Homo sapiens: one gene and its partners. The protein of the gene in region 3 purifies or fractionates together with the protein of the main gene of each other region. This does not show direct contact. Each region holds a gene or a part of one and is shown on either strand. Other genes may lie near its edges. The genes, in order: GAPVD1, HSPA12B, IVNS1ABP, DHX36 and HNRNPR.

Region 1 (3,645 bases), on a different chromosome or scaffold from region 3:
TGGCAAGAAAAGCTGAATGCTATTTTTGGTTCTAGGCGTCATACCACTCGTTTTAATATTGAAGAGTGGGCCGGGTGCGGTGGCTTACACCTGTAATCTCAGCACTTTGGGAGGCCGAGGCAGGTGGATCACCTGAGGTCAGGGGTTCGAGACCAGCCTGACCAATATGGCGAAACCCCGTCTCTACTAAAAATACAAAATCAGCTGGGCGTGGTGGCGCATGCCTGTATTCCAGCTACTCAGGAGGCTGAGGCAGAACTGCTTGAACCTGGGAAGCGAAGGTTGCAGTGAGCCAAAATCGAGCCATTGCACTCCAGCCTGGGTAACAAGAGCAAAACTCTGCCTCAAAAAAAAAAAAAAAAATACTGAACAGAGCAAATGGAAATGGGCCGTAAGCAAGTTTTTAACTATTTCCTTCTAAATGAAGTGCAATCAATATAAGAAAAGCGCCTTCTCACCAGCAAGGGAAGCCTGAAGAATGAGTTAGTACTCCTTGTCAAAAGTAACTTCCCTTGGCTGGAAAGATTAATAAAGGCCTAAATGAATATTGTGATTAGATGGCAACACTTTTGCTTTCAAAATGAAAAATGATAAATAGCTACCAAATATAGGCATTAGGCAGAAACTGTTAAATCCATAGATGAAGGTCTGGGTGCAGTGGCTCACGCCTGTAATCCCAGCACTTTGGGAGGTTGAGGCGGGCAGATCGCTTGAGCTCAGGAGACTGGGCAACATGGCAAAACCCTGCCTCTACAAACAATACAAATATTAGTCAGGTGTGGTAGCGTATGCCTGTTGTCCCAGCTACTGGGAAGGCTGAGGCTGGAGGATCTTTGAGAACAGGAGGCAGAGTTTGCAGTGACCCTAGATCCTGCCTCTGCACTCCAGCCTGGGCGACAGAGCCAGGCCCTGTCTCAAAAAAAAAAAAAAAAAAACCCTTAGATGTTCACCATTGTGTTAGTTACTGCCAGGTCATTCTAGTTCCTTCTTGTGCCATACTTAGCAAACACCCTTATTGTTCAGATAAAAAAGATGTGTGTGAATTCACGGAGAACATCAGAACATTCGGAAGTCAAATACGTTTTCAGAAATGCTTCTGAATATAAAATAGATGACAGAAACATAAAACCCTGTGAATCAAACTGCTCTCCCCTTTTAATCAGTTTTATAGAATATTTTACAGTACTAATCACATTAGGAGACAGGAGGGGTTTCCTGTACATATACAAGATTGTGCAAGCTCATTAATTGAGACTTATAGAAAGGTTTTATCTGTTTCAAAAGAGGCAGTACAGCTTTTTAATCCAGGTGAAGCACAAGAAGAATCCAGTAGACAGGAGAGTATTAATTTGACAGAGGTGAATTCCCCTAGTGCATGGCCGCTACCCACACTGTCTGCCATTATCCAAGTGGAGACGTCATCTCTCTTGAATTGAACCCTTGCTGAGCTCAGGCCTGTGGGATGCGGCAGCTCCAGGGTCACTCCATAGCTCAACCACAACTTAACACGGAAGCAAACTATATTTTCATTTATCCAAGTGTTCTCAAGAGTAATAAAGCTATTCCTTGTCCTACTACTTTCTAACCTACATTCTAAAATATATTAAGTAATTTTTAACCTGGCAAAGTTCTCAAGCATTTTGGCATTTAAAGTAATCGCAAATACCTCATCACTGTTAATCCACTTACTAAAAATCCTTTGGGCTTCAAGATAGTTTCAGATTTACTTCCCTTAAAATTAAAGCAATTGCGTACAAAATAAACTCACTAGACTTAAATATTTAAAAAGAGAGACAACAGCCTTTTCTTTAAAGAAACAAAGCAGGAAGAGATGGGAGAGAAAAATCTAGGAAGCACCAATTGAGGAAGTGAACCCCACTACACTTCTATCACTTTTATGCAATCCAGTAATAATTCTGAGTGTATTCCTACTTTCCCTCTTCACACCCAATCACATAGGAGAAAAACAATTTTAAAACACCTAGTTGACCTTACTCGGTCCAAAGTGGAAATTTCCATGGCAAACAATAGGAAAAAGAGTGCCCGGGTTCAGCACACCAGTCAGCTACAGATTCTTACGGCAAGAACACAGCCCCCGTATTGGGGCTGAGATTGTTCTCTTGCTCACGCACCTCAGGGACACATTTGTAAAGCCCACTTTAAACAAAGGCTTCCAGGACATAGGAATAGAAAAACCATGCAGCACATTTGCAATCCCTTAGAAAACCTGAGCCTCCTACTACAGCGATTTAACTATCTGTATCAGAAGGCCTTCATAAGCAGGTTTTTATAAAGAAAAAGCAGAAGAAAGCAATTACTGTGGCTGAGATTTTACCTAAAATGGAGAAAGAAAGCAAAATGTTTGACACGTTTAAATATATATACATATAATTTTGTGGTTGGGCACGGTGGCTCACGCCTATAATCCCAGCACTTTGGGAAGCCGAGGTAGGCGGATCACTTGAGGCCAGGAGTTCGAGACCAGCCTGGCCAACATGGCGAAACCCTGTCTCTACAAAAAATACAAAAATTAGCTGGGTGTGGTGGCATACACTTGTAATCTGAGCAACCAGGGAGGCTGAGCCATGAGAATCACTAGAGACTGGGAGATGGTGGTTACAGTGAGCCGAGATCACAGCACTGCACTCCAGACTGGGTGACAGAGCAAGACTATGTCTCAAAAAAAATTAAAATATAATTTTGTAAGTAAAGACAATCTTCAACTTGTATTTCTATTACTTCTAAAAGCAGAATATTAATACAAAATGCAAACCTGATTTTTCTTTTCCTCAGAGAAGTTAATCCTACAAGATTTCAGGGGACCTGAGCCAACTCTCTCTCCATTTAACATCCACTTTATAAATTCTATGTAGTAACTAGTGGCTGCTGAATGTTTCCTGGGCTGATTTTGTACTTTTACACTAATCTTTCATGTAAAGAAAGTACTGGAAGGCAGTGGAGGAAGAAACATTTGGGGAACAACTATTCCTCTTTTCTATTAAAAAAAAAAAAAAAAATCAAATCACTCCCCATCTCACATACCTGTCAAGAAATCAAACAGTGATGGTTAATGCCAAAGTAGTCCTTGCTCCTGACAGATTTTCAGAGGAAACCTTAGCTGCCCCTGCAACAGCTGTGCTGTGCTCCTCCGCCAGCTATGGAGTCATGAGCACCCGAACCCATTTCACAGGTGTCACAGATGTCAAATCTCTGGGGGGTCTACCCTCAGCCCCGGCTCCAACACAGCACAGCCCTATCTCCTGCCTCCAGTGTAGCCCTTCACCCCAATCCCACCACCTTCTCTTCCACAGAAAAGAGCCCCGATGCAATGTCCACATCTTCATATTTATTTCCACAGTGTTAACATGGAATAGACTTAGCAACCATTGCAGAGAAAAAAAAAATCTCTCATTGGTTTATGAGTTAAATCCTGTAACAATGAATTTCAACCATTCGAAGTCTTCTGCTGCTTAACATTTACTGAATCAAAGGCTGAAGTAAATGGACTCTCATCTAGGTCTCAGAAATCACACAGCTGGCCTCGTGATGTATTTACGATGGGATTTAACTTCTAATACAAGGCAAGTTTGACAGTTACAGCCAATGAAGTGCACGACTCTGTACATGGATTTCTTGACCTAACAT
Region 2 (4,704 bases), on a different chromosome or scaffold from region 3:
CCAGGGAGGCTGGCTAGGGAGGGAGAGTGAGATCTGGTAGGAAGCTCCATGGACAAATCAGGCAGGTCTGGCTCGCCTTAGGCTGAGCCAGGCAGGCCCTGTGCTCCCTCAGCCACAGTCCTGTCACGTGCTGCCAGGCAGGTCTCCACTCTCCCTGGCCTTGGGGGTAACCTGGGAACACAGGCGAAGGGCCAGGCATGAGGGGGACTCTGGGAAGCGCCTGGACAGGGCCAGAGTCTGAGGTGCTGGAGGGGCAGGGAAAAAGTGGCCACATTTCAAGGGCTCCCTCTCCTCAGGCAGCCAGGGCAGGCTCCAGCCCTGCCACCAGCTGCAGCCCGAGAGGCCAAGTTGCTGTGGCTCGAGCTTGGGAAGGGAGGCAGGAAGGAAGGGCCCAGCCCACCAGGTCTTTGTGAATGGACTTCCTGAGGAGTGTCCCTCTTGCCTCCGGCCTCCCACCCCTGCGGAGAACCCAAGCCTGCTCCCAGACCAGGCTATGGCCAGACGCACATGCACACGCAGAACTCTCTGCATGCGTGCCCACCTGCAGACTATACTCCCGTACACAGATCCTGTGCACAGAGACCTGCCCGCAGAGACACACACTCACTGATGCACTCACACGGGGTCCTGTGCACATGGCCTGAACAAAACACATGGACATTCAAACACTCCTGTGCACACAGACCCTCCATGCACACGCAGAACTCTCTGTATGCATGCCCACCTGCAGACTATACTCCCGTACACAGATCCCGTGCACAGAGACCTGCCCGCAGAGACACACACTCACTGACACACTCACACAGGGTCCTGTGGACAGAGCCTGAACAAAACACACGCACATGCATACACTCCTGTGTGCACAGACCCTTCTGGCACACACAAACACACGCACTCAGCCCACACTCATATACACATGAGGGTCCTGTGAATAGACCAGTCCTGTGTGCACACATACTCACATACACAGACCGGTGCACACAGACCCTTTCTGCACACACAGGGGGGTCCAGTAAACACAGACCTGCCCTGCACACATGCACACACACACACACACTCACTCACAGAAGAGCTGTTGGGAAGCTCTGTGGGAGAGGTACATTGCACAACCTGTAGGTGGGTCTCAGTGCCTGCTCGGGTGAGTGGGTGATGGGTCAGGGCAGAATGGTGGGGGTTCTTACCGATGTACAGCCCCTGCAGGCCCATCTCCGGGACAGCCAACATCCTTGCAGGCCCTGTAGCTGTCAACAGGAACAGACAAGCAGAGTGGGATTTATTTGTCCCTTTGTTCCCTCATCTGAATGCTTATTTATTTTATTTGTTTACTTTTGGCTGGAGTCCTTTGAAGCAAATCCCAGCCATCATGTTGTTTCACCCGTGAACTCTTTAATACATCTCTCCAACAGATAAAGACGTTTTAAACAATGTCATCGCAACACCATTCTCATGTCTAATGAAATTAACAGTAATTCCTTAAATCTCATCTAAAGTCCCACAGTTCCCAGCTTGTGTCAAAAAATGGCTTTACTTTCTTGGAATCAGGATCCTCCTAAATGTTTTCTGGTGCCTGCTCTGTGCCAGGTGCTGGGAGATAGTGACCCAGAGAGACACTGTCCCTGCCCTAGAAACCAACGGTCTGATGGAGGAGATAATCAGGCAAGTGATTTTGAAATGACAAGCGTTGCTGAGTGCTAGGAAGGTCAAAGTTGGATAATGCGGGGTGGGAAGAGGACATGGTAAGTCTGGACAGAGGGCTGGGCTGGGCTTACCCTGCAGGCAGGGCCTGTGCACCCTATTTCAGATTTGATTTTATATGAAGGGCAACAGCAAATCTTGAAAGGTTTGAGGTGGCAGGGTGGGGTGGGGGCATGACTCAATTTGTCTTTTCTTTTTTCTGAGACAGGGTCTCACTCTGTTGCCCAGGCTGGAATGCAGTGGCACGATCTTGGCTCACTGCAACCTCTGCCTCCCAGGTTCAAGCCATTCTCCTACCTCAGCCTCCTCAGTAGCTGGGATTACAGGTGAGTGCCTCCATGCCCAGCTAATTTTTGTATTTTTAGTAGAGACGGGGTTTCGCCGTGTTGGCCAGGCTGTTCTCGAACTCCTGACCTCAGGTGATCCGCCCACCTCGGCCTCTCAAAGTGCTGGGATTACAGGCATGAGCCACCGTGCCTGGCCTTCGTTGTTTGTTTGTTTTGAGATAGGGTGTCACTCTGTCACGAGGAGAACCTACATTTAAAGGCTGAACAGAGGAATATATACCGGCCCAGGAGACTGAGATGCCTCATGGTCTCATGAAGATTGTACCAAGAGATGGGTAAAGCTAGATCCCTGTAAAAGGTCCCCAGATGAGACTGGAAACACTGTTTTAGTGGCCCAAGGGAGGTAAGCTTAGGTGAGGAGTGAGCAAGAGGTGACATGAGCTAGAACTTCTTTTCTTAAGATGGAGTTTCACTCTGTTGCCCAGGCTGGAGTGTAGTGACGCAATCATATTGAGCTAGAATTTCTGAAAAGCTTGGCTGAAATCAGGAATACATGTGAGGGCAGTAGTTGGAGGGCGCTAAAGCTGAAGGGAGGTGAGGAAGAATATTTATTTTCTAAGATGGGAGGGGCTCGATCCTGTCTATGAAGTTCTGGGGCCAGGCTATAGGCAGGATATTTCAAACCATCAACAGCTTTGTTACTCAAAGTGTGGGCTGAGGATCAGCAGCATTGGTATCACCTGGAAGCTTGTTAGAAATGCAGAACCTCAGGCCCCAGCCCAGACCTGCTGAATCAGAACATGTATTTCATATTTATTTATTTATTTATTTATTTATTTATTTATTTATTTATTTATTTTTGAGGCAGAGTCTCACTCTGTCCCCCAGGCTGGAGTGCAGTGGCGTGATCTCAGTTCTCAGCTCACTGCAATCTCCATCTCCTGGGTTCAAGTGATTATCCTGCCTCAGCCTCCCAAGTAGCTGGGGCCACAGGCATGCGCCACCTAATTTGCCTAAAATGCCACCTAAAAATGCCTGGCTAATTTTTGTATTTTTAGTAGAGTCGGGGTTTCACCATATTGGCCAGGCTGGTCTCGAACTCCTGGCCTCAGGTGATCCGCCCGTCTCAGCCTCCCAAAGTGCTGGGATTACAGGCGTAAGCCACCGCGTCTGGCCTATTTTAACAAGATTCCCAGGTGATTCAGGTGCACATTGAAGTTTGAGAAGTGTTGCTCAACAGTGTCTCTCAGCCAGTCTGCAGACCACTGACACTATGTTCTCATTGGTGGGCCTGGCTGCTCCTCTAAACAAAGGAGGAGGCTACGCAGGGCCAATGCATTCCTTCTCTGTCACCAGCGGCCCAATCTGAAAGTTTTGCTATAGAACACAGGCAGACACAGAGCTGGCTCTGGCATGCCCATAGACACATGCACACACCCTTGCTCACACAGTTCACACAAACCAGCCCCATTGTGGACAGACACCTGGACTCCCACACACTCTTGTATGTCCAGGATTCTCCTGCATGGCCAGCACCATGGAGATTTCCAGACACTCTTGCTGTCCTCTGTACCATTGGAGTTGGATGCTCAGGAATCAGAATCAGAAGAAGGATGGGTGCTGGTTGTGGGCATGCATATAGCAGCTGGCTGTTGAGGAGAAAAGGGAAAGCACAGAGAGGGGGAGGGGAGGGTTCTTAGGAGCCAGGGGCAGGAGCCCAGAGCCCAGCTCAGGATGATGGAGTGGGATGCTGAGCTGGGTCCCACCAGCTCATGCGAGCTGATTCTTTCTATCTCTTCCCAATTCTGCATTCAATGACATCACATTGGTAGCTTCAAATCAGTCATGGCTGGGAGTATTTACAAGACAGAAATTGGCAAACACCATAAATCAGGATTTTATCCTTCTTCCAGAGCTGATTGGAAACCATTAACCAGCATACTACTGGATCAAGGTCTCGAGGGAGGAGCTGGCAGCCTTATTTGTATGTTGTTCTGATTCTTCAGCAAACACTTATCGAGATTCTTCATGCCAGGCTCTGTGCTAAGCACTGGGGAACCACTTTGTTGAATGAATGAATGGATTTTCTGGACCGAGGCTATTGTATCTGGAGGAGAAACAACCTAGAACCACCAGAAAAAAAAGACTCTGGGCCGGGCGCCGTGGCTCACTCCTGTAATCCCAGCACTTTCAGAGGCTGAGGCAGGTGGATCACCTGAGGTCAGGAATTCGAGACCAGCCTGGCCAACATGGTGAAACCTTGTCTCTACTAAAAATACAAAAATTAGCCAAGCGTAGTGGCAGACGCCTGTAATTCCAGCTACTCAGGAGGCTGAGGCAGGAGAATCGTTTGAACCTGGGAAGCAGAGGTTGCAGTGAGCCAAGATCGCGCCATTGCACTCCAGCCTGGGCGAGAAGAGTGAGACCCCATCTCAAGAAAAAAAAAAAAAAAAGACTGAGTCCTCGCTCTACACTGGATTCCACATCCAAACCATGGGCCTATACTCTTCCCAGCTATCGGAAGCTTGTCCAGTTATCTACCGTCTCTCATTGTGCGATATGCTGAGTGCCCCTATGCTGGGGTTTCAGGGATGGCAAGAGCCTATTATGGCACCTAGCGTGAGTGCATCATGCCACATCTCTGTGCCTCAGTGCCCTTTCCTGTAGAATGGGTGACACAGAGGGCTTATGTTAACAAGTCCAGATATGCAAGGTATTGATA
Region 3 (4,704 bases):
GGGTGCAATTAAAGTCCAGGTATTATTTTCAGGATTGTATCGTTCTACTGTGTTCAGACAATTCCAAGATTCTGCACCTCCGATTATGTACAAATAACCACCAAGCTCACAGACTGCAGACTGGTGTCTCCCTACAAGAAAAGTCAAGTCAAGATTATTGCTACATCTCCCAGACTCTAAGTGTATACTACACATACTGTTGATTTGAAGGTCTTTAAAAAAAAAAAGGAAAAAAAATCAACTTACGAATGTTAAGAGGGGCACAGCTTGTCCACAACTTTGTTACAGGATCAAATACATCACAATTTTTCAGTCCTTTTTGACCATATGGATCAGAGCCACCAACGATGTATAACTTTCCATTCAGAGCACACACTCCTATGTAAGTATAAAATAAAGTTACATATTGATAATTTAATTATCATATTTAAATACTGGATATCTCAGGAGAAAACTATTATTACCTGCATTACAACGGTTAGTTCTCAATTCTGGAACAGGAATCCAGTCATCTATGTTTGAATCATACATCTCTCCACAACTCAGGTCATCTGAGTGGCCATTTGATCCACCTACCACATAGAGCTGGCCCTATGCCAAAAGTGAGAGATGAGAATTTCTAACATCCTGAAGTTACGAGGAAAAAGCTAAATAGGGGTTGCTCCTGCAACATAATGCGCTTACCATGAGTACAGCCATTTGAAATCGGGCTCTTGGTGTTCTCATGGGAGCAAGAAAGGACCAGTGATCTGTATGTGGATTATAGCATTCGACTGTTCGAAGACATTCCTCTCTGTTATAGCCACCTGGTAAAAAATAAAACCATAAAGATTTATGTTTAAAATATTAAACTGGACCACGGTTTCCAGTCCTGTAAGTTTAAGAAATCTGCACAATGAGAAAAAGTATTAAAACTTTTTAAGGATGCCTTAGTTGATCTTTTAACTAAGTGCTTGTAATAGCTGAAAAATCGCATTATCAGTACAAATAAACTGCTTAGTCTTGGCTTGAATATTAGAAAAATTTAGCCATGACATAATTTTTTTAAAAATTAGATACAGACATTGAACTGAAGGTTAGCCATATTCAATAGTATTGTTATTTCCCTATCTTATTGGATTGCCGTGAAAGATGGCATATTAAACCCTCTCTTTGAAAGTTTGCATGTCACAAAAATGCCCATCTACATGCTTAGCCAGTTGAATGCTTCTGTTCTTACCTGCAGCTATGAGTTTGCCATTCATCTCTGCTGTTCCCAGACCAGATCGTGCGTACTGCATAGGAGACATGGGCTTTTCGATTAGCTCATCTTGTTGCATCTCAAAGCTTAAACTCTTACTTAGTTTTGGAGTACTTGTTGGTGAGCTCTGTGGGCTGTTTCTCCCATGAAGAAAAATGACACAGAATATACCATCCAGCACAGCCAGGCACAAGTAAGTGTTATCTGTAAGCACAAGAGTTCCATGTTTAAGATGTAATTATTACTTTTGGTTTGTGTATATGATCCTGAATTGGACTCCAGTCTCCACATCCCAGACTGGAACAATCTGCTCTCGTTTTCCAAATTTAATTGCTTCTGAGTTTTTTCCTCGAGTAGTCAATTTAAGAGGTATTAAATTGGCAACACTCCTTCTTAAAAATAGGTAAGCTGAAAACAATCTGGCAAGTGTCATATACTTACTTGAAGTCTTTTCTGAAGCAACGATTTTCCACTCATGCTTAGGGCTTTGTACTGTAGCATTTGGAGAAGAGAGACATCCAGTTGAACTGCTACTTATCTGCTTATGGCCATTCTCACGTGGTGGCTTTTTCTGCAAAATCAAAAGGTAGCTACAGAAACCTAGCCAAAGACCACATCTGATGTACCTTTGTTCCTGAGCTATTCCACAACACTGAGTATCCTTCACCTATATATGACATTTATAGGACACTAACTTTAACTCAAGCCAACACTTTCCAAATGACACAAATTACTGGCATACTTCCATCTCCACTCAATGATGAGACAACTACGCCTACACAATTAGCCTAGGTAAGAAAAAGCTCAGTTTTAACAATTTGAAAAACATGTTGCAAATCAAGACCTCAGCAGAAGAAAAAACCAATCTATAATTATTTTTATATTAAGTATAGAATCTTTTAAAAGAATGCTATAAATTTAAAATAGTGTGAATTAACAGAGAATACATTTAACCCACTATTTTCATGAAATTGTCAAACCTAACTAAATCATATGTACAGGTATCCTTCATACAATGCCAGCAAAACGTAAGCAGATATAGATTCATCCAGTTTCTCTGAAAGTACTTGACAGGAAAAAAGTGGCAATTACAAGAAACACTTAAAGAATATTTCTTTAGGATTACCTTATAGGTATTATAGAGTGGTTTTCTAGACAAAATTACATCAAAACACAAGAAAATAGTAATCAGAAATGAAACATTACTAAAAACAACCAAATATTCACAAAAGTAGAATATACAGGAATACTAAAGAGGGAGAAATGAACAAAGCTGCCAATTTCCAAATGATTGTAAGAGAACTACTTTACACATGTGTTCTCATGTATGAGTTTTCCTTGATGGCTTCCTTCCAATTACTTTAGCCTTTGCCACTTCCAAAGGATATGATCATATGGAATTGGAAGAGTAAAGACTACTCTGAGAGGAACTGCCAAATGAACAGGTAGCAACTTCAGCACCTGGCCTAGTTTGCTCATCCCACTTGTGCTGGTCCAGATGGCCAGAACACATGGATAGGTAAAATTTCTAATGGAAATTTCTGTTGCTAGTGGAAGCAAAAAGCCATATAACAAGTAATTGAGAAAAAGATTTTGCTAGCTACTTGAAGCTATTAAGAAAAAGCTATATCAAAAGTTAGGCCTGAGTGTGGTTACAACATACGTAGGCTATTTTGAGAAAAGGCAGGGAATGTATCATTATCAATGGTTATGATTAAATTCCACTTAGATGTTTACTATGTACCTAGGTATTACTAGGTACTTTATTTACATCATCTCTTTTAGTCCAGTGAGGGTGATATTATCTACCCATTTTATAGATAAAAATATTGAAACTCAAGAAGATATGCATTGCCCAAGGCAATACAACTAAAATAAAGATTAGGAATTATGAAGATAAACCCCATCCTTTTTATACTATGACAAGTTATGTCATACTATAAAACAGATTTACACTATGACAGGCTGTTTTCCACTGTTACTAAAGTTGTGAATGCATCTTTCATATCACTTTTATACTATGAATATTAAGAATAAAAAATAAGGTTAGACTTATCTAACCTTATCTATTATTATGAATTACAAGGTACATAAAACCTCATCCCAACCTATGGGAAGAAGGGATCCAAATATCACAAATGGATGATGCTTACATTGAGGCTGTACTGAAGTAAAAAAACTGTTCTAATGTACAAACTATAATTAAGAGAAAATGACTGTGAAAGAGAAAGGCCCAAAAGCAATGCCTAATAACAAGCCTAATATAGAAATGCTGATTAAATCCTTTATATGTAAAGAATATATCCCTAAACCTTATTTTACATGACCTCCCAGAGAACTTGACAGTGTTTAGTCCTCCTTCAAACTTTCTTCTCCTACCTTAGGTAGCTTTTACAACATGATTAGATTCTTATTGTCCTCTGACTTTTCTAATGGCTTCTTCTCAACCTCCTTTTTCTATTCCTGAAGTCTAACATGTGTCCCTCGCATCCTCTTCATGATCTCTATTCATGGCATCACATTCTAATGAGTCACACATGTCAGAATCCCACTTATTCTCAAATTCTTTCTTTTCCCTAATCTTGCTAAGCAATCACTAAGGCCTGCTAAGTCAACCTTTGTAAATATAAATGTCTATTTATATATAGACATAAATAAAAAATCTATCCTTTCTCCTTCATGCCCCTAGATTAATCCCTCATCATTTTTTTAAAACCTGAACTACTGCTGGCAATAGTCTATAAACTGGGCTCAAACTTTTATTGATTTTCTGTGTCTGGTTATAAAAATAGGAAGGGTCCAAGGCAACAATTTTAGAAAATAAAACCAGAAATCAGTTGGGATATTCCAGCCCAAAGACTGCCACCTAATAGACTGTTCCCCAGTTTTTCACCATTACTAAAGTGAATGCAAAACTTTCGTATCACTGTATTCTTACCTAAGGCTTCCCACTGCCTATAGGATAAAGTATAAGCCCCATTCAGGGAGCATTTACCTACTTTCCCAGTCTTATGACCTGCAATTCCAAGAGTATCATCCTCACAGATACTCTTTGCTAACACCTCTCCCTTTATCTGCTATGCAGACTCCTCTAAATCCTAACACTGCTCAAAAGTTACCTCTTGTGTGAAATATCCCTGGCTTCTCTCCTGTCTCACTGTGTCCTCTCCTTTAGGCCTTTCGTAGCTACCTCTTATAAGCCTGTATTGTTTTGCCCACTCTTAGAAGGTCCTACAAGCAGAAACTGTCTCTTACACATTTTTGTGTTGCCATACCGAACATTATGGCCTGCCACTTATTGGGCACTCAACCTCTGCATGTTGAAAATGTACTTTTAAAATGTTAACTCAAAATGTTTAGAGTTAAGGGGGAAAATATCCTCAATATATTCAAAATGCACAAACATAGGTTCTCAACTAATTCAAATTCCAAAACTTTTAGAAATATTCACTCACTGTTGCCAC
Region 4 (3,500 bases), on a different chromosome or scaffold from region 3:
GTATTTTGACCTCTGATGTGATGTTTGCTTTTTACAGTGTGTACTGCTTGTTTCGCTTGTTATGAAATGTAAAGAGCATTTAAATAACAGTACCGAAGTGATTTTTTTATTAGTAATTTTGAAATAGTAACAATCTATTTGTTTAGGTTTTGTTTTGATTACCTTTCTCCGCTAATTCCGGGTGCTACAAGTAGTAATGCTTATCTAGAATTCAGTAAAACTTTGATATTCTGGATATTCTATTATGGCACCATCTGGGTTAATGATGAAGAGAAAATAGACTTCTAACTAATGGATTTTGAGTTCAACTTAAAACTCTATTCTTTGATATTCTGTGTTATTTTGTAGAACTGTGAGATGTGTGTACAGTTTGGTAGCAGTAAAATGGTATTGAGTGAAGACTAGACTGCTGTTTTTTATTAAAGTAGGTGTGGAAAAGTAGGGTAGAATTGTAAAAGCTACAGGACCATTTTCTGGAATTAATAGTAAGTAATAGAGTCATTGTCCTATTTACAGTATATTAATGTTTTTAACATTTGAGTACAAATTTATGCTTATATTTTGTCTGCCGTAATAGGTAACTGTCCAATGATACATATACCTGGTTTTACCTTTCCGGTTGTGGAATATCTTTTGGAAGATGTAATTGAAAAAATAAGGTAAGTAAACATTAGGAAATAAAAAACATTAAAAAGTACTAATATATCACTTTTCTCATGTCAAACTTTAGTCTCAGAAACCCATCATTGACTATTTCCTTGTAAAACATTTTTCTGGGAATTAGCCACACTTGGCTGCACATTAAAATTGCCTGGAGCTTTTTAAAATCCAGATGCCTGATTTATACTCCCTACCTAAATTACATTACAGTGTCTGAGGTAGTAGCCAGGCATCCGTGGTTTTTTTTAATTGAGACAGAGTCTCTCTCTGTCGCCTAGCCTAGAGTGCAGTGGAGCTATCTCCGCTCACGGCAACCTCCGCCTTCCAGGTTGAAGTGATTCTCCCACCTCAGCCTCCCAAGTAACTAGGATTACAGGTGTGTGCCACCATGCCCAGCTAATTTTTGTATTTTTAGTAGAAACTAGTTTCACCGTGTTGGCCAGGCTGGTCTCAAACTCCTGACCTCAAGTGATTTGCCTGCCTCAGCATCCCAAAGTCCTGGTATTACAGGTGTGAGCCACCACGCCTGGCTGGTGTCAGTGTTTTTTGAAGATTCCTGGGCAGCAAAGTTTGGGAACCTTTGTCTTTAGTGTTTGAACCCTTTTGCTGGTTCTCCTGCCTGATTTTCACTTTCCTTTGTTGGCTTCCATTGCCGAACCTTTAAATATAATTTCCCCCAGTCTTCTCAATCATTTATGTTTTCACTGTGCAAACCTGTTTATATCCCTAACTGTAGTTCTGTATTTTCACAGCTTTCAGTAGTGTAGCTTCAGAACTGAAGCTTCTCCTGACCTTCGAACTGGCTTTCTGCTCAATAGTATTCTAGTACCACAGATGCCTTGAACCTAACATTTCTCAAGCCTAAATCATTATCTTATATTCTCCCACCAAAAAAATAAAACAATGTGTCTTGCCCAGCATACTTTATAATGGTTAATAATTATCCTCCACTTAGTTTTCTGACCTATAAATCAAAAAGTTAGTGTGTATCAGGCAGTTATGTACCAGGGTATGGCAACTGTTTTACACAGTGAGTAACCAAGTTAATCCAAGTCATTTTGTACTGCCTTCAAACACACACAAACTCTGGGAACTTTCTTCTTGAACATGCTTTCTCATTTTTATTTCTTTGCTAAGGTCCTTACTATCTCTCCTGTGCTAATACAATAGTTCCTCTTTTGGTACTATGTTCTTCACTCTTAGGGAAGCACTCTTTGTGCTATACATGAGGCTTTATCACTTTTTTTTTTTTTTTTACTTTATCACATTTTTAAAAATCTCATGCCAGTACTGTTACAAACATTAATCTCTCAAATAAGATAACTAAAGGCCAGATGTTTAATGCCTTGTCTAAGGTTACACAGCTAGTCAGTAGCAGAGGAGGGATATTCTGACTTGGGAGTCCATGCTCCAGCCCCTCCCCCATTCCATCTAGATGCTGTCCTCTAGTTGAGCTCAGAGATGCCTTGGGGTTAAAGTGTGGGTTCATTTTTGTCTTTTCCCACCTCGTGCCTCTCAGGACTGACAATGATAGGTAGAATTATTGTCCAGATGCGCCCTCTATGGTTTTAGCAATCACTACAGGATGGTAGTAGAATCATAGTACAGCACTCAATTGACATATGAGAGACTTGAATACTGATTCTGGATCTGCCATTAACTACAACTGTGTGACTGAGCAGAATTAAATAGTTCTCTAGCGTGGGTCTGTAGATCTGGATACACTATCTGAATCTCCTGCAGGCACTAATTAAAATTCTTAGATTAACAGACCCAAGGCATACCTACCAAATCCAAATCATCAGGGATGGGATTTAGGAGTCTGTATTTTACAAGCTCTCTGAGGGATTCAATTCTTACGTGCAGTCAGGTTTGGACTTAACATTAATATTAACTTTTGTTCTAAAGCAAACTTAAAATAGAAGGTAAAAGTTACTTACTTTAGTCTTTTTCTAAATTTTTGACTAAAAATGATCTATAGGTTTATATACTTCAATAAAGAAGAATGATTTTTATCCAAAATATCAGGTTTTATAAGTTAATGAACACAAACTGATATTTTAGCTAGCATTCACTTGAAAGCATAATGAAAATGTTCTTTGGAATCCTTTTTGAAAATCCTAAATATAAAATGTCACAGATTTTAGCTAAAACTAGAGTTTCAAAAAAGTGAAGATATTCAAGAATGTTTTTATTTTAGGTATGTTCCAGAACAAAAAGAACACAGATCCCAGTTTAAGAGGGGTTTCATGCAAGGGCATGTAAATAGACAAGAAAAAGAAGAAAAAGAAGCAATATATAAAGAACGTTGGCCAGATTATGTAAGGGAACTGCGAAGAAGGTAAGTTTATTTTGTCTGAAGGTGAGAAATCAGTGGCTAAATAAAACAAAAAGCCAGAGGCTGGGGGCATCTTCTTGAATCTGTACGTACTTAAAGGAGAGCATTGTGAGTCTCTTATTCGAGCTAAATATTGTGCTGATTTGACTTTTAAGCAGTAATTACCCCAGTAATTCTCTCCGATCTGTAGATTATGTTCCTCCATTTGCAGATTGAGTTAATTTTAAGCTTTTGTAGCAAGTTAACAGAAAACTTGATTAAGTATTTCATGACTTTGTGTTTAACTTTGATAGGTATTCTGCAAGTACTGTAGATGTTATAGAAATGATGGAGGATGATAAAGTTGATCTGAATTTGATTGTTGCCCTCATCCGATACATTGTTTTGGAAGAAGAGGTTAGTTTTATTTTTCTTTCTTCAGTTAACATAATTTTAATTTTATTAACGTATCAAGGCCATGAAAAATACAGTTTTCTTAAATGCTTATGAAATAGACTGGAAG
Region 5 (4,704 bases), about 160 Mb from region 3:
TAAATAAAAATAAACGAAGTGTTAACAGAAAGTCAAAGGTATTACTACTGGATATTTTTAAGCCTCTCTTACAAGGCATGAATGTTTCTCAAAGCAAATTTACATAGTAATAGGAAATTATATTCCTAAACCAGTAACTGAAATGGTAGTCACGATCATTTTCACTAAAACTAAAGTCCGCAGTGCAATTGACGCCACAGTACTAACAATTTTCCCTGTATGTACATTCACTTATCCAGCAAATAAGGTCTTCAGTCACAAATTATCCCTTATAAAGAATGTGGGTCAAAATAAATTGCAGTCTGCTTTCCCAGCCACATTTTATTTGTTTTAATGCAAATTATCCAATGCCTGCAAGAATGCTCAAAAGTCTATGAACCTGTTTTTTTTTTTTTAATAAAAGATAAAATTTCAAAATTAGAAGAGACTATGAGAGAACACCAATCAATGAAAGTGCTAATTGGAATAAATACTTGAATTTAGACTAATCCTCAGTCTAATATCCACAACACATGTTGGAATAAACAAGAAATTTTGCATGAATTTGATCACTCACATAGGCAGTTATACTTTGAAAACAATATTCCTTGCAAGGATTACGAATAAAATAATGTTTTAGGACACAATTGAATTTGAAATAGGTAATGTTTTGAATAGATTTTTTAGTTTTATTGAAATCTTACATGAACAAGAAATTGGAAATACAATCACATCAAAGAACAAATTGTCACGGCTTTTGACGTTTAAGCCAAACAAATTTTGTAGGGCAGATTTCAAAAAGGTGTGAAGTTATAACAATTTAAAAACACAGTTAACCTACTTCTAGGAATGCAAAACATACAATCATAGGTTATTTTCAATACAAGAAAACTTAAATTTGTTTGCTTTAATTTCTTAAAACTACTAAGACAAAGCACTAGCTTGTATTTTTATTTACAGCATACTCCATACTCCTATGTAATCTATCCCAAATCCAAAAAAATGAAACTGTCCAAAACCAAAGGTTCTGCAAAATCATGATTTAACAGTGTGCCCAGCTTGTTTTGAAGCTAAAATGAAGCCTGAAACGATAAAAGCATTGTAATCCCCAGAATAAGGGAACTCTGCAAGCCCAATAATGTCCAAGAGCATTTATGAAAAGAGGAAAAATAAAAAGACTTGAGTATATACACAATAGTGATTTCTTCAGCCCAATACAAATGGCAGCAAAATGCTACTTAAAGATGAAACAGTTAAGCCAATTTTTTTTTTTGAAGAATGTAGATCTAGAGCCAATCGTATCTTGCCAGTATCATTTTCAAGCCCTTACTTGTCTACTTCCACTGTTGCCCATAAGTATCCTGATAAAATTCCTGGTTGTCATTATTGTAACCATAGTTACCAGAATAGTCACCACCTTGCTGAAGCGGCTGCTGAGCGATGGGTTGGGAACCCCAGTTCTGTTGGTTGTTGGTCTGACGACGCTTGGAATCAGGCTGGTTGTACCCATCTGCCTTTCTCTTGCCTCCTACATTGCCCCCACGATTGCCCCGAGATCCACGGGAACCACGGCCTCTCTGCTGTTGAGCAGGACCCCCTCTGCCACCCCTAGAGCCTCTTGGTGGTCCCAAAGGTGCCCCCCTCTGTGAATAGCCAGCTCTACCTCTTGGAGGTGGTGCTCCCCTCCCCCTTGGTGGTGGTGGAGCACCTCGCCCTCCCCTTCCTCCTCCTCTTCCTCTTACTGCATAGCCATCATCATAGCCGTAGTAGGGATCTTCATAGCCTCCACGATAGTCGTGATAATCATAACCATAGTAATCATCATAGTAATCTTCATAGCCGTAGTAATCTGGAGGGTAGCCATATCCACCTCTCCCCCCACCACGACCCCGACCTCTAATTGGAGGTGGCATGCGAGGAGGAGGGTGGTAGTAATAATCTTCATACCTAGCAAAGTAGAGAAGGGAGAAAAGAAAAAACAAATCAGTTTGCTTCAAGACTCTGATTTTGTTTTATTAATCTGATCTCCATTATCACGTTATTCCTTGTCCAAAGATATATCTACTAAAATGTAGACTCACGCAGTGCTTCTGGAGGCCTGTCTAGCAGCTTGGCGCTCTTTCCTTTTCTTGTCTGGTGGCTTGGCTAAGACTATTTCAATTTCTTCCCCTTCTATTTCTTTGCCATTCATTTCATCCATAGCCTATAAAAAATTAGAAAAATTATTTTACAACGATATAAAACTGTATTTTGTTTTATATAGTATGTAAGCTATTATACTTGTGTAATTTAATACACTTAACAATTTACTTCACAATTATTTTAAATGGCAAAAGGTGAATCTAGCCAGAAAGTTAAACACAAACACACAAAGAAAATACGTTTCCCTTGACCTTATCTTTTTATACATAAATTACATTTAGAACAAAACCGACCACCTGATATTATATTTTAAAAGGTAAAAGGGCTGCCACCTATTGCTGCTCCTTAATTCCAAATAACTCCTTAAAAGATAAGCCATACCAAAGAAGCAAATCCATACCGGGGAAAAATGCCAGTATTAATACGAGCCAGACAAAGATTAACTTCTCAGGATTAGAATTTTAAAATAAACATGTAGCATACAACATACAGGTCTTCCACTGTTCTTATACGACAATTTCAAGGATTTGAAGCACAAATGAGGTTACTGAGTGAGATTATCTGTAAAATTCAAGAAGATACTAACACAAAAAAGCCTAGGTTTCCCTCACAATGCTTAACCCAAAATGTACTTTGCTTGAACAGTTAAAAGTACAGAGCCAGAAAAGGCCTGGACTAATGAAGACTCAAGCAATTATGTAGAAAGCAGTAATCAAACATTCCATGTTCTAGCCCTTTGTTCACGTTGTTCCACCTAACAACCTCTGCCATACATCAAAAGGTTCAGGTACTCAGTAACAAAATGTCACCTCCTCATGATATTTTATTTTTTGTTTCCCTATACCTTTCCCCACTCTGGGCACACATAAAAAAATGTTCTATTGGAGCTATCAGTGATTTATAAGTATCTAGACAAAAACGAAACTAGTCCTCAAGACTGCAATTTTCCCTTTTACCACCTCAGCTTTGCGTTGCTTCAGTTAAAGCAACTAAACAAGTTTACAAAAGCTTCCTGGCATAAATTAAAAAATGAAACATCTACCCTCTGCCCTGACCATCCTGGTGACTCCCAGTTCCTGGACTAGATATTTTATAATTTCATAGGCTTCTTTGGCAAACCATCCTATAAATATTTTCAATCAGGACAACCAGTTATTTGAAACCAGTCGAGTCAGGAGGAATATTTAGACAGCATAAAATTATTAGTTATCTGCATTCTATACCAGTGAAATTTCAGAAGCCACAAATGAACGGATAAGAGTATAACAGCATAACAGATAAGACTCCATACTTCAAAGCCAGATTATTACTGAGTTTGTGATCTTGGACAAGTTATGAATTTTATGAACAATACTGCCTCATTAATTAGCTACCATCAATGAGCAAGCCAATTAATTATAAACCAATCAGGGATTCTATAAAGCCTGTTTTAAAAGCAGTAGCCTGGGCAAAAAACAAAACCAAAAAATGCTCAGATTAGAGATGGCAGTATCCCACCGACCAAACATGCAGAAAAAGAACCATGCCTGTGTCACTAAGCATTCTGGATCTATCTTCCTAATAACATAAATAAGATTTTAGTAGTGTTTTGTCTTGCTCCCACCCCCCCAAGGAAGGAGAGATGAATAAAAAAAAGAAACTGAAAATTTCACCCATTAAAGATAGTCCTAAACCATTGTCGATAGAAAGCAGGTTTTGTGTTCCAGATACCATATGAAAATACTTTCTTCAAACTTTTCATTATCATCAAAGACTAAATCAACTATTATACACAAGTGATATCTCTAACAATTACCGAAATCAGTAAAACATAGTGAATGCTATTTTAACTCTAAAATGATTAAATAAAGGTAAAACTAATCATACCCTCAAAATCTATCTACTCAATTAAACATGGTATACTGTATGAGTCATGTACACCACTCAGTTTCCTTCATAGGTACACAAACTGAGGTCAACTAAGTAGTTATAATGCATTCATTACCTATTCAGTGTTTACAGCAGCTAATTTTTATACCTTGTAATACTTCCAAGGCATCATGCTATCGAATCTTACAAAACAATACAGAGATTAAAAATAACTTGCCTAAGATCACAAACTCAGTAATAACCTGGCTTTGAAATATGGAGTCTTATCTGTTACATACTATTACCACTTTACAGAGATTAAATAGAAAGAGTTCAGCAAAAGCTGACAACCAATATTGTTTCAGTTTTTAAAGTTACTTTGTGTTTGGCAAGTTTCAAAAACAAAATTCAAATATCAAGAACCAAAATTTCAAAATTCCTACCTTAACAGCTGCTCCTCTGTCTTCAAAATGAACAAATGCATAATCTTTCAACTTCTTTACTCTTTCGAGTTTTCCAAATTCAGAAAATGACTTTTCCAATATTTCTTCTGTCACCGTAGTAGCCAAGTTTCTCACAAACAAAACTTTTACCTAGTAAGCAACAAATAAACAAAACCGTCATTGGCTACTTAATTTTACCTGAAAAGTGTTTCTTCCTGTCTTCATAGCATAGCTTTTCTCCTCTAAAACATTAAGTGCTAAAAGTGTTGTTACAGGTAGTAAGAGAAATTGC

What was found.
Region 1: the proteins of IVNS1ABP (region 3) and GAPVD1 purify together in Homo sapiens (affinity purification with mass spectrometry, with the first as the bait; one large-scale study listed by BioGRID). This does not show direct contact.
Region 2: the proteins of IVNS1ABP (region 3) and HSPA12B purify together in Homo sapiens (affinity purification with western blotting; one study listed by BioGRID). This does not show direct contact.
Region 4: the proteins of IVNS1ABP (region 3) and DHX36 purify together in Homo sapiens (affinity purification with mass spectrometry, with the first as the bait; one large-scale study listed by BioGRID). This does not show direct contact.
Region 5: the proteins of IVNS1ABP (region 3) and HNRNPR purify together in Homo sapiens (affinity purification with mass spectrometry, with the first as the bait; one large-scale study listed by BioGRID). This does not show direct contact.

What each region holds. Positions count from the first base shown.
Region 1 is NC_000009.12:125,364,691-125,368,335, reverse strand, and holds the end of GAPVD1 (GTPase-activating protein and VPS9 domain-containing protein 1), read right to left. Parts: 3' UTR 1,129-3,645; downstream 1-1,128. UniProt on the Homo sapiens protein: Acts both as a GTPase-activating protein (GAP) and a guanine nucleotide exchange factor (GEF), and participates in various processes such as endocytosis, insulin receptor internalization or LC2A4/GLUT4 trafficking.
Region 2 is NC_000020.11:3,735,195-3,739,898, reverse strand, and holds part of HSPA12B (heat shock 70 kDa protein 12B), read right to left. Parts: intron 3,632-4,704; exon of another isoform or gene 3,559-3,631; coding exon of another isoform or gene 3,556-3,558; intron 3,509-3,555; exon of another isoform or gene 3,467-3,508; intron 1,242-3,466; coding exon of another isoform or gene 1,225-1,241; coding exon 1,182-1,224; intron 1-1,181.
Region 3 is NC_000001.11:185,299,753-185,304,456, forward strand, and holds part of IVNS1ABP (influenza virus NS1A-binding protein), read right to left. Parts: intron 1,812-4,704; coding exon 1,682-1,811; intron 1,445-1,681; coding exon 1,220-1,444; intron 807-1,219; coding exon 685-806; intron 592-684; coding exon 465-591; intron 379-464; coding exon 247-378; intron 132-246; coding exon 1-131. UniProt on the Homo sapiens protein: Involved in many cell functions, including pre-mRNA splicing, the aryl hydrocarbon receptor (AHR) pathway, F-actin organization and protein ubiquitination.
Region 4 is NC_000003.12:154,300,488-154,303,987, reverse strand, and holds part of DHX36 (ATP-dependent DNA/RNA helicase DHX36), read left to right. Parts: intron 1-577; coding exon 578-659; intron 660-2,860; coding exon 2,861-3,001; intron 3,002-3,291; coding exon 3,292-3,394; intron 3,395-3,500.
Region 5 is NC_000001.11:23,309,141-23,313,844, forward strand, and holds part of HNRNPR (heterogeneous nuclear ribonucleoprotein R), read right to left. Parts: intron 4,563-4,704; coding exon 4,413-4,562; intron 2,183-4,412; coding exon 2,061-2,182; intron 1,927-2,060; coding exon 1,314-1,926; 3' UTR 1-1,313. UniProt on the Homo sapiens protein: Component of ribonucleosomes, which are complexes of at least 20 other different heterogeneous nuclear ribonucleoproteins (hnRNP). hnRNP play an important role in processing of precursor mRNA in the nucleus.